Linked DNA regions of Homo sapiens. The protein of the gene in region 3 interacts with the protein of the main gene of each other region in a pairwise test. Each region holds a gene or a part of one and is shown on either strand. Other genes may lie near its edges. The genes, in order: PER1, KNSTRN and NUPR1.

Region 1 (3,747 bases), on a different chromosome or scaffold from region 3:
CTGAGTCCTTGCCGTTGCCTGAGGAGGAGCTGTGTGAGCTCCGCTGAGATGCGCCTCTAGACTCATGCCCGTTGGACTCATTGCCACTTGAACCATTGCTGTTGGCATCGGTGTCATCGGCCAGGCTGGGGCCTGGGCAAGGCCGGTGCTGTGGGGGCCCAGGGGATGGGACGCCCCCAGGACAAAATGATTCCCCAGGCCTGGGGTCCCCTCCCCCATCAGCCCCTTCTAGGGGGCCACTCATGTCTGGGCCATGGGGAGAACAGAACAGAGAAGGCAGAGAGGCCACCACGGATGCACGAGGGGGCCTGGAGGCTTGGCTGAGGGAGTGAGGTGGAAGATCTAAGTCTCTGAGGGTTGAGAAGTTCGATCACAGCCAGTACCTGGAGAGGGAGACCAGGAAGCAGGGCTTGCAGAAAGCTGGTTTAACTCCAGAGCACCTGCTGGCTTCACTCAGACCTTCCCCCTGCCTGGCCTCCTGCAGGACTGATGGGAGTGGAACCCAGGCCTGGGGCTTCCAATGGGGAGTCAGGATGTCTCCTGTACCCTTAGGGGGACTGCCAGCGGGAGAAGGTTCTCCGGGGCCTTCCTTCACATCCCCTGCCACCATGGCCTGAGCAGTCAATGAGAACCACGGCTGTAGACAAAAACCTGGACACTTCCCATTCCCAAGTTCCCATTAGGTGTCCACTCTGCCTGGGCCTCCAAGGCCTCGGAGCAGGAGGTGAGCTGGTCGCCTCCTATATTTAGGCCTCCAGGCTAATTTTATCCGGGGGCGGTGCCACCCCCGCTGCACATGCGCGCCGACGTGCGCGGCCCCACCACGCGCTTCCGCCGCCGCCACGGTCGCCAGGGAAACCGACGTCAGCTGCTGAGCTCAGCGGTTGCTGGAGGGACCACAGGAGGGCGGGAGGAGCGACCCCTCCCCCATTTCCCGGCGGAAGTGGGGGAACGGCCCACTCTCACACTGGTGGGCGCGGCCGGGGGGGTCACGCATCCCTTACATATCCCCAGTCCCAGGATGGCTCGGTGGCCGTAAGAAGTGGGACGGCCTATTAGGATCCCAGGGTTGGTCCTGGCTTCCCCAGGACGAAGCACAACGGCCACTGCCCTCGGCGCAAAAGCCCCTCAACCTGACTCTCGCCTGGATCCCAGTCATTCTGGTCAAGACAACACAACCTTTCCTTCTTTAGCCCCTGCGCTGCTTCCCCACCACAAGGACCGAAGCCGGCAACCTGCCATCGTCAAGGACCCGAGGATCCTCTCTCTTCAGTCCCCTACTTTTCTGGCCAGACCCCCCCACCAACCCCAAGCCTTGGGCAGAAGACACACAACAGCCAACAGATCTTTCTTCCCCTACTCCCCGTCCAACCACACCCCTACTACTGAGCATTTTCTGAGCGCCAGGGGAAAAGGGAAGGTTGTGGCCAACAGCAGGAACCAGCGCTGGGAACGGGATGTTCTAGTCCGAAGTGGGCTGACATCACAGGCGGCGCAGGGCCAGGGACTGGAGAACAGAGACACGGGGAGCGCTGAAAGCCTAATAGGGTCCTGGTACCGGGGCAAACCTGGGGCCCCTCGAGTAACGAGCAAGAAGACCGGGGCATGCCCGCTGAGAGTCGGCTGTGGGGCCGGGAAAGCTGGGACGGGGAGGTGGGGACAAGCTGGAGGTAAGATGAGTGGGTCAGGAGTGCAGACTCCCGGTGCAAGATTTCGAGGAGGACTTCGGTCCTTGGGGGCAGGGAGAGGGTGGGTAGCGGTAAGGACGACAGTGTGCCCTCTGCCTGGGCCGAAAGTAGCCCATCAGATTGGAAGTGGCAGCGGTCCGGCTCAGGGACGGAGATCGGCCCCAGGATGGCCGCAGAGATGCCTACCTGGTCGCAGGAGTGTCCTCCGCACGCCTGCCCGCCGCCGCTCCAGCCCGCAGCCGAGTGGAAGCTCCACCGGGCGGGCGGGGAGGCGGGTTGCATAATGCCGGGCACTGCCCCCTCATTGGCCTCTTGCCGACGGAGCCGCAGGCCCCGCCCCCGATTGGCTGGGGATCTCTTCCCGGCGCCTGATTGGCTAGTGGTCTCCACTAAGGTCAGGGCTGTGTCACACACACGGGCGCACGTGGACCTGGGTGCTGGTGCTGGGCTGAAGAGCCCCAGACACCGCCCAGCCAATGGGCGCAGGACGCTTGCACATTGAATAATGGAAGGGAGGAGAGAGGGAGATACGCTGCGCCTCTTTAGGGAAAAAGCCCGGCCCGGGGTAGGTGCTCAAGACTTGTCTACTTCCTGAACGCACTAGCCTTGCAGAACACAACATCTTGGCATCTTCGCCTTTCCAAGGGTGAGGAAAAGGAATGGCGCTGCAAGTTAGGCCACGCTGGATGAGATGGGTGGTCCTTGAGAGGAGGGGAGAGACAGAAACCTGCCTGGGCCTCTCCTGGGTTCCTTTCCCAACCTTGTTCCCTCCCAACCTTCGTTCTACATAATGAAGCCCTTTAACCGAAGCACTTCCTCTGACACTTCAAATCCTGGGAGAGGACAGTTAAGGGTCCACGTGTGACCGGTGGGTGAGTGGGTGGAGGAAGGATGCGGACAATGGAAGGGGCAACCAGAGCCAATAGTGGCTGTGAAGGGAAACAATGGCAGGTGCTTCTATGGCCACTCAGAGACAAGGTCTCCGGGCAGCCTACGTGGTGTCTAGTACTTTCCTCCAGAGGACGCAGCCACCCACAGTTAAAGCTGCCCCAAAAGTGGGGGCCAGGAAGCCAGGACTACAGAGGGACCAAGGGGATGGCCCAGAGAAGAGGCCAGCTGGGGCCCTAGACAGAGAAATGTGGGGTGGCAAGGGCTTCATATTTCCACTGCTTGGAAAAGAGAAAGCCAAACTCCAGGGGCCCAGACGGAACGTCATCTGTCTCATTCACTGTAGTCTCCAGAGCCCAGGACAGGACCTGACACATGGCAAGTGATCGATAAACATGATTTTTTTTTTTTTAAACAAGGATAGGTTGGGGAGGTGGGAAAAGAGTGTCAACAGGAGAAAGGGGGCTGGGAATTCTGATTCTCTAAAAGAGATGAGTAGTCCTAGAAAGAGAACAGGGGCACGATTTGCAGGCAATAAAATGTTAGTCTGGGCTCAGGAGAGCTGCAGTTACACAGCCCCCTCCATCCAGGACCGTGATGAGTAGTTCCTCGCAGGGCTCCCTGGAAACGTGGGTAGTAGATGAACAGGCCTCCAAGCAGCTGCTGACATAATCATTGTGGGGGCACTCCCCTCACTGTCACGTGGCCTAAGCTTTCCTGAACAATGAGGGAAGGGTGAAGGGGAGGGCTCTGTGGAAAAGCTGAGACAAGATCGTGTTATAAATTAACCCAGAAAAATCGAAACAGGAAAACAAAAGATTCAGGAGCCTGGAGGCCGGGCGCGGTGGCCTGTAATCCCAGCACTTTGGGAGGCCCAGGCAGGCGGATCACCTGAGGTAGCGAGTTCGAGACCAGCCTGACCAACATGGAGAAACCCCGTCTCTATTAAAAAAAAAAAAAAAGATTCAGGAGCTTGGATTCTCAGTCTCCTCTCCCTGAAAATGATCCTCTCCACCCCAACTCATACTGTGGCTTTGGCCTTATCTCGTTTGCAGATACCTCTTCCCTGGAAACATGGTTTTTCTCCCCCTTCAGGGATTTAGGTGTGATCTCCCCTAACCCAGGCAGTCCTTGATCTCCCGCCTCCATCTCCCTGTCTTTTGCATAGACA
Region 2 (3,747 bases), on a different chromosome or scaffold from region 3:
TACTAAAATTACAAAAGATTAGTCAGGCGTGGTGGCGCATGCCTGTAATCCCAGGTATTTGGGAGGCTGAGGCAGGATAATCGCTTGAACCCAGGAGGCGGAGGTTGTGGTGAGCTGAGATTGCGCCATTGCACTCCAGCCTGGGTGGCAACAAGAGCAAAACTCCGTCTAAAAAAAAAAGAAAGAAAAATACGGCCTACAGAGTTACACAAACACGTCCCATTCTATCCTGGCTATTACACAGTGGTATATGACCTTCAGTGAGTTGCATAACCTCCCTGAGGCCTTGTTTCCTCATTTTTGAAATCAGGACAATACCCACATCTCATAGTATTATTATTATGAGTAATAAGAGAGAAAACACGTGTGCATTTCTTAGCCCAGTAGCTGGGCTATTATCTAATGTTAGTTTATCATCTAATAAACTCTAATATCACCAATTGTTGGGAGCAGGCCCCCCAAATCTGGCCATAAACTGGCCCCAAAACTGGCCATAAACAAAATCTCTGCAGCACTGTAACATGTTCATAAAGGCCCTAATGCCCATGCTGGAAGGTTGTGGGTTTACGGGAATGAGGGCTAGGAACACCTGGCCTGCCAAGGGCGGAAAACCACTTAAAGGCATTTTTTTTTTTTTTTGAGATGGAGTCTCGCTCCGTCGCCCAGGCTGGAGTGCAGTGGCGTGGTCTCGGCTCACTGCAAGCTCCACCTCCTGGGTTCACACCATTCTCCTGCCCCAGCCTCCCGAGTAGCTGGGACTACAGGCACCCGCCACCATGCCTGGCTAATTTTTTGTATTTTTAGTAGAGACGGTGAAACACCATAGTTAACCAGGATGGTCTCCTGACCTTGAGATCCACCCGCCTCGGCCTCCCAAAATCCTGGGATTACAGGCGTGAGCCACTGCGCCGGCCCTTAAAGGCATTCTTAAGCCACAAACAATAGCATGAGCAATCTGTGTCTTAAGAGCGTGTTCCTGCTGCAGTTAACTAGCCCAACCTATTCCTTTAATTCAGCCCATCCATTTCCCATAAGGGATACTTTTAGTTAATTTACTATCTATAGAAACAATGCTAATGACTGGTTTGCTGTTAATAAATACGTGGGCAAATCTCTGTTCGGGGCTCTCAGCTCTGAAGGCTGTGAGACCCCTGATTTCCCACTTCACACCTCTATATTTCTGTGTGTGTGTCTTTAATTCCTCTAGCGCCGCTGGGTTAGGGTCTCCCCGACCAAGCTGGTCTCAGCAACCAATATTAGAGTTTTTTCTTAAAGTTCTCAGTCTTTTTTGCTAGTATTTTGTCTTCAAAACTTTTTTATTTTTGTAAGTCAGAGTCTTGCTCTGTCACCCAGGCTGGAATGCAATGACGTGATCTTGGCTCACTGCAATCTCTGCCTCCCGGGATGAAGTGATCCTCCTGCCTCAGCCTCCTGAGTAGCTGGGATTACAGACATGCGCCACCATGCCTGGCTAATTTTTGTATTTTTAGTAGAGATGGGGTCCCATCATGTTTCCCAGGCTAGACTCGAACTCCTGACCTCAGGTGATCCACCCACCTTGGCCTCCCAAAGTGTTGCGATTACAGGTGTGAGCTGGTGTGCCCTGCTGTCTTCAAAACTTTTAAGATATGCCCAAATAATAGATCTGGAACTAAAACCTATTTGTACAGACTTTTCAGCTTATTATTTCTATTTCTGATAGTGCAAAACTTCCAAACTAGCCTCAAAGATGAGACATGAATCCTTCTCCAGGTTTTCACCACCACCACCACCAGAATCTTCATCTCGAGATCACTAACTACATACACCCAGCCCTTCCTCTCCTGAAGGCTTTACCCTCCTGTTGATGGGCCATAGCTAAGTGTGATTTCCAATCAGCAGTGGTCCTGGCGTGGAGTCCAAAAAGCTCTTGCTTGAGACACAAGATAGTAGCACCAGTGATTCTTGCACTGACAATGGTTCTTACACCTAGCTGTGCCTCACCCCTGAAAATTCCACTCAGGTTCCTGAGGTGGAACCCAGACCCTAACACAGTAAACAAGTCCCACAAATGATTCTGATGCAGAACCAAGGATTGAGATCCACTACCCTAGAATAGTGGCCAAGTTGATTTACCCTGATGCTCACCCTTTTCTGACATTCCTTCTGGTGGCAGTGTCAGTAGCTTTCATTTGCCTAGGAGGGCAGAAACAAAGAAATGAATCAGAGACTTACAGTACTGTTAAGTGTGCTGTGAACAGGCAGAACAAAGAGCTTGAGTTTCTGAGGAAAGAACCAGACATAAAAGGCAAATGGCACAAGCTTAAGAGCTCTGAGAGACTATGCATTACTGCTTCGGCACAGATTATTGAAAAGGCTTTTTAGTAGCAAAGGGGCATGCCTCCGACCACCCTAACAACCTGACAGAGCTGTTCCTCTCAAGATGGCGTGGCTATCTCATGTCAACCTCACTCACCTGGAACTGACTGCTGGCTGGGGACATACACACACACTAGGGCTGGACTGTGTGGTCAGAGCAGCAACCTAGGATAACAACTAGTCCCCACCCTGCATGACTACCCCTCAGGGTTGCTGTATGACTACAGTGCTGCCACTTGTATGCTCAGAGCAAGCGATGAAAGAGGAAAGAACACCTCTTATAACTCTGGCTGTGTCTCTTCAGAAAGATCAACACAGAGGGTTCTGGCACAGAGCTCAGCAATGCTGCACTGCTCTGGGCCACTGATTGAAGGCCAGTTGTTCAGGAGACTTGTGTTGTCCAAAACTCTGTTTTCTAATTCTTTGTATTGAGCAATTTCTAGGAAGATGTTCTAACTGGATACTAATGATCCGTTCTCACCCATTCTCTCGTCTCAGTTTGGTGATTTTTGTAACATCATTCTCTGGACCTCCTGAATGAAGCTGTTTGGAAACATCGACTTCTTTGGACCTAACAGGTAAGAGACTCTTAGAAGTGGCCCGAGTTTGTGTGTCTGCAAAGGAAAATGAGAGGTAAAGCTTCTGGCATCATGACCCGACAGTTGCAACCCTGTAACAAACAGAGCCCCATTCGAAGTTGTCATAAATCTTTATTTTACTTTATTTTAAAAAGTATTATTTATTTTTTTGAGACAGAGTCTTGCTCTGTGGCCCAGGCTGGAGTACAGTGGTGTGATCTTGGCTCACTGCAACCTCCACCTCTTGGGTTCAAACGATTCTCCTGCCTCAGCCTCCCGAGTAGCTGGACTATAGGCACCTCAAATATGTTTTAAAATTTTAAAAATAGAGACAGGGTCTCACTATGTTGCCCAGCCTGGTCTCGAACTCCTGGGCTCAAGCAATCCTCCTGCCTTGGCCACTCTGGCGTGAGCCACGATGCCTGGCCAAATCTTTATTTTCATTCTGGCAAATTTCAACATGTGAAGATTAATTCAAAAGAATAAAACTTCCAGGCTAATTGGCAATAAAAACCAAAATTATTTAAACGTGACAGTACAGCATGTTTGAGGGTAGCCAAAAGTTTCATTGAACTGAAAGGTGTAGGCTGTAAAAGTGAACATGGAGATGGACACCAGCAGAGAGCAGGGTGGAAGTTAGCAGGTAAAACATGCCTGAATCCTTGTACCATCTCATTAAGCTCCTCCAAGCACTCTGCACACTCTCCTAAGGCATGACTGAGCTGCTCTGAGTTTTTTTAAACCGTTACTTCGTTGTTTTTACTAGAATGTCTTCCTAACCATTCTAAGGCATCTTTGTGTCCCCATCACC
Region 3 (3,747 bases):
AAAGGGGATGGAGACAGAAGAGGAAGAGTCTGGGTAGGATCCTTTCGGATCCAAAAATTCTGCAATTCCAAGAATTGCCTTAATTCCCAGAACAGCCACTTAAAGGCCTCTCAGGCAGAGGCTGTGCCAGGCGAGGGCGAGGCCAGGAAAGGCCAATCAGAGGCCAGGAGGGAGGGGCAGTGTGTGAGGACTCCTGGCTGGTGTCAAAGGACCCAGGACAGGGAGTGGCCATTCCAGCTAGGGACACAGTGCTTCCCAGCCTTCATTTTCTCTTTTGACAGAAGAGAGGCCAGTCTCACCATTTGACAGGTGAGGAAACCCAGGCCCAGAGGAGTAATTGACCAGAAATTAACGAGAGTTTAGGATTCTTCATTGTCAATACATGGTTCTTCCCAGGCATGTAGCAAAGGGGGAAAAATCCAGGCTTTAAAATTCAGATAGACCTGAGTTCATAATTCCAAGTCCTACAGGATGTGGCTGTGTGACTTTAGGCAAATTACTTAATGTCTCCGAACCTCAGTTTTCCGGTCTGAAAAAAAGGGGATCATTAATAGTATGTCCTATTGGGTTATCGTAAGGATTAAATGGAGCAAAGCCTATAAAACACTTCTCACAGAATAGGAGCTCCAAACACAGCAGAGATGTTTCCAGGATTTTCTGAAGCCAACACACCAGGTCTGTGCTGGGCTGAGGGCCGACTGCCTGGTGTTGCTCCTGCCATTTGCTCCCTGGGTTCTAGAGCTGATGGTGGCCCTATTCCTGGTTCCAGTCATATCAGGATTCTATTTGTCCCTCTCAGCAGCACAGGCCTCCAGCAGCATCCTGGTAACTCAGAAGGCATCCAATAAGCATTGATTGAGTTAATATGTAACTTGTATGGAAAGAGGAGTTGGAGGCAAAATCTGAAGGATTTCCAAGGTAGACTGTAAGATTCTGGGCCCAGGCTTCCGTGTGATCCCAGAGGAGGGTCGGCCTGGGGTGGAGGTCAGGAGATGGGTGGAGGATTGCAAGTTAAGGAAAACTTTGGTTTTTGTTTTTTTGAGACAGGTCTCACTCTGACGCCCAGGCTGGAGTGAGATCATGGCTCACTGCAGCCTCCACCTCCCAGACTCAAGAGATCCTCTCACCTCAGCCTCCTGAGTAGGTGGGCCCACAGGCACAAGCCACCACACCTGGCTAATTTTTAATTTTTTGTAGAGAGAGGGTCTTGCTGTGTTGCTAGGCTGGCCTAGAACTCCTGGGCCCAAGCAATCCTCCCACCTCGGCCTCCCAAAGTGCTGGGATTGCAGGTATGAGCTTCTGCACGCAGCCATCAGGGAGGAAGAGAAGGAAACATCTAAGCTGAGCCTCATGAGATGGGGTCGGGGGAGGAATTAAAGTCATCTCAGACAGAAAGGACCAGAAAAACAGAAGCTTATTTAAGGGCAGGTATGAGAGACAGATTTCAGCCCACATGAACAGACTTGCCCTGAGATAGAATTAGGCAACCTTTGCCGGGTGGTGTGGCTCAAGCCTGTAATCCCAACACTTTGGGAGGCCAAGGCAGGCAGATCACCTGAGGTCGGGAGTTTGAGACCAGCCTGGGCAACATGGTGAAACCCCGTCTCTACTAAAAATACAAAAATTAGCCAGGTGTGGTGGCCCACACCTGTAGTCCCAGCTACTAGGGAGGCTGAGGCATGAAAATCGCTTGAACCCAGGAAGCGGAGGTTGCAGTGGGTCGAGATCACACCACTGCACTCCAGCCTGGGCGACAGAGAGAGACTCCATCTCCCAAAACAAAACAAAAAAATTCAGCAACCTTTAAATGTAGCAAGTTCCCCCTCCATAGTGGTATTCAAACAAGCAGAGGCAATCCCACTGTTGCGTGGGGAGAGTTGGGCCAGAGGTCCTTAAATGTCCTTCCGGGTCATGGATTCATTCTGTGGCTGTGATTAGGCTGGACTCAAGGGAAGGGGATGGATACAGGTCCCCAAGGGTTCAAGCTGGTCGTAGTCTGACGTGCATCTGTTCCTGCTCTATCAGGTACTTCGGTCTTCTGTGGATGTCCTTGGGTCCCCATGAACCACTGACTCCAAGTTCTGCAGTGTGGGGCTTATGTGAAAGGGACAGGGGAAAAGGAAACAGGCTCTGCCCGGGGCCCAATCTCAGAGTTTTCTCCCCCGACATCTGTTGAGTCTGCATGTGGGCAATGTTTCTTGCTAGCTTCTTCGTGTATTCACTCTCTCTGGTTCCCTTTCATCATAAAACCCTGCTGTTGCCCAAGTTTTGGCTACCACGTGGCTAAGCAGCTCAATGCTACATTTCCCAACCTCTCTCGTAGTTGGGTGTGGCCATGTAGCCACATTCGGAGCAGATGTGATGTGTTCTACTTTTAGATTATGCCCTAAAATTGAAGAGGTGTGGCCTCCTCTGTCTCTTCCACACTCTTTCCACAGGCTGAGATGCAAACGTGATGGCAGGTATTGGAGTAGCTATTTTGGGCCTCAAAGTGGAAGCCATGTTTTGGGTGTGGCAGAACAGTGAGTAAAAATAGCTGGAATCCTCAACACAATGGAGCTGCCATTTGAACCCAGGAGGACTTGGGGCTAAGTAAGAGAGGAGTAACTTTGTATCCTGTTTTGATTCTTCATAATAGCAACCCAAACCTGTATCTCAATCAACAAATAATCTCAGCTCCAACCACACTTCCTGTTTGCCCCATATTTTTCTTCAACTCTGGTCCTGAGACATAGCACTGAATAAGAATCTCCCTCCCCCATCTCACTTCCCAGAACCCTGTCCCACAGCCCCCTTGGCCTGGGGACCCACCTCATATCTGAAGACAATAAGATCCCTGAATATGAGCCCTGAGTGAGCTAGGGCAAATCCCTTAATATTTCCTTCCCTCCTTTCCTCCTTCCCTCCTTCCCTCCCTCCTTTCCTTCCTCTTTCTTTCCCTCCTTCTCTCTTTCTTTCTCTCTCTTTTTCTTTTTTTGAGATGGAGTTTTGCTCTTGTTGCCCAGGCTGGAGTGCAATGGCGTGATCTTGGCTCACCACAACTTCTGCCTCGAACTCGAACTACTGACCTCAGGTGATCCGCCTGCCTTGGCCTCCCAAAGTGCTGGGATTACAGGTGTGAGCCACTGTGCCGGGGCTCGCTCTTTTCTTTCTTTCTTTCTTTCTTTCTTTCTTTCTTTCTTTCCTTCTTTCTTTCTTTCTTTCCTTCCTTCCTTTCTTTCTTTCTTTCTTTCTTTCTTTCTTTCTTTCTTTCTTTCTTTCTTCTCTTTCTCTCTCTTTCTTCTTTTTCTCTCCTTTCTCTCTTTCTTTTCTTTCTTCCTTCCTTTCTTTTCCTTCCTTCCTTCTTTTTCTCTTTCTTTCTTTCTTTCTTTTTCAATACATGGTTTCACTCTATTGCTCAGGCTGCAGTGCAGTGGCACCATCATGGCTTACTGTAGCCTCCAACTGGGTTCAAGGGATCCTCCAACTTCAGCCTCTGAGCAACTAGGACTACAGGCATGAGCCACCATGCTTTGCTAATTTTTAAATTTTTGTAGAGACAGGGCCTTGGTATGTTGCCTAGGCTGGTCTCGAACTCCTGGCCTCAAGCGATCCTCCCTCCTTGGCCTCCCAAAGGCTGGAAGGCTGAGGTGGGCAGATCATTTGAGGCCAGGAGTTTGAGACCAGCCTGGCCAACATGATGAAACCCCATCTCTACTAAAAATACAAAAATTGGCCAGGCGTGGTGGCTGACGCCTGTAATCCCAG

Evidence for each region.
Region 1: the proteins of NUPR1 (region 3) and PER1 interact in binary tests that used the Homo sapiens proteins (3 or more experiments, as listed by UniProt).
Region 2: the proteins of NUPR1 (region 3) and KNSTRN interact in a two-hybrid assay, tested with the Homo sapiens proteins (2 studies listed by BioGRID and IntAct).

The regions. Positions count from the first base shown.
Region 1 is NC_000017.11:8,150,463-8,154,209, forward strand, and holds the start of PER1 (period circadian protein homolog 1), read right to left. Parts: upstream 1,943-3,747; 5' UTR 1,875-1,942; intron 384-1,874; 5' UTR 245-383; coding exon 1-244. UniProt on the Homo sapiens protein: Transcriptional repressor which forms a core component of the circadian clock.
Region 2 is NC_000015.10:40,385,587-40,389,333, reverse strand, and holds part of KNSTRN (small kinetochore-associated protein), read right to left. Parts: intron 2,973-3,747; coding exon 2,840-2,972; intron 2,176-2,839; coding exon 2,128-2,175; intron 1-2,127. UniProt on the Homo sapiens protein: Essential component of the mitotic spindle required for faithful chromosome segregation and progression into anaphase.
Region 3 is NC_000016.10:28,532,360-28,536,106, forward strand, and holds the end of NUPR1 (nuclear protein 1), read right to left. Parts: 3' UTR 349-3,747; downstream 1-348. UniProt on the Homo sapiens protein: Transcription regulator that converts stress signals into a program of gene expression that empowers cells with resistance to the stress induced by a change in their microenvironment.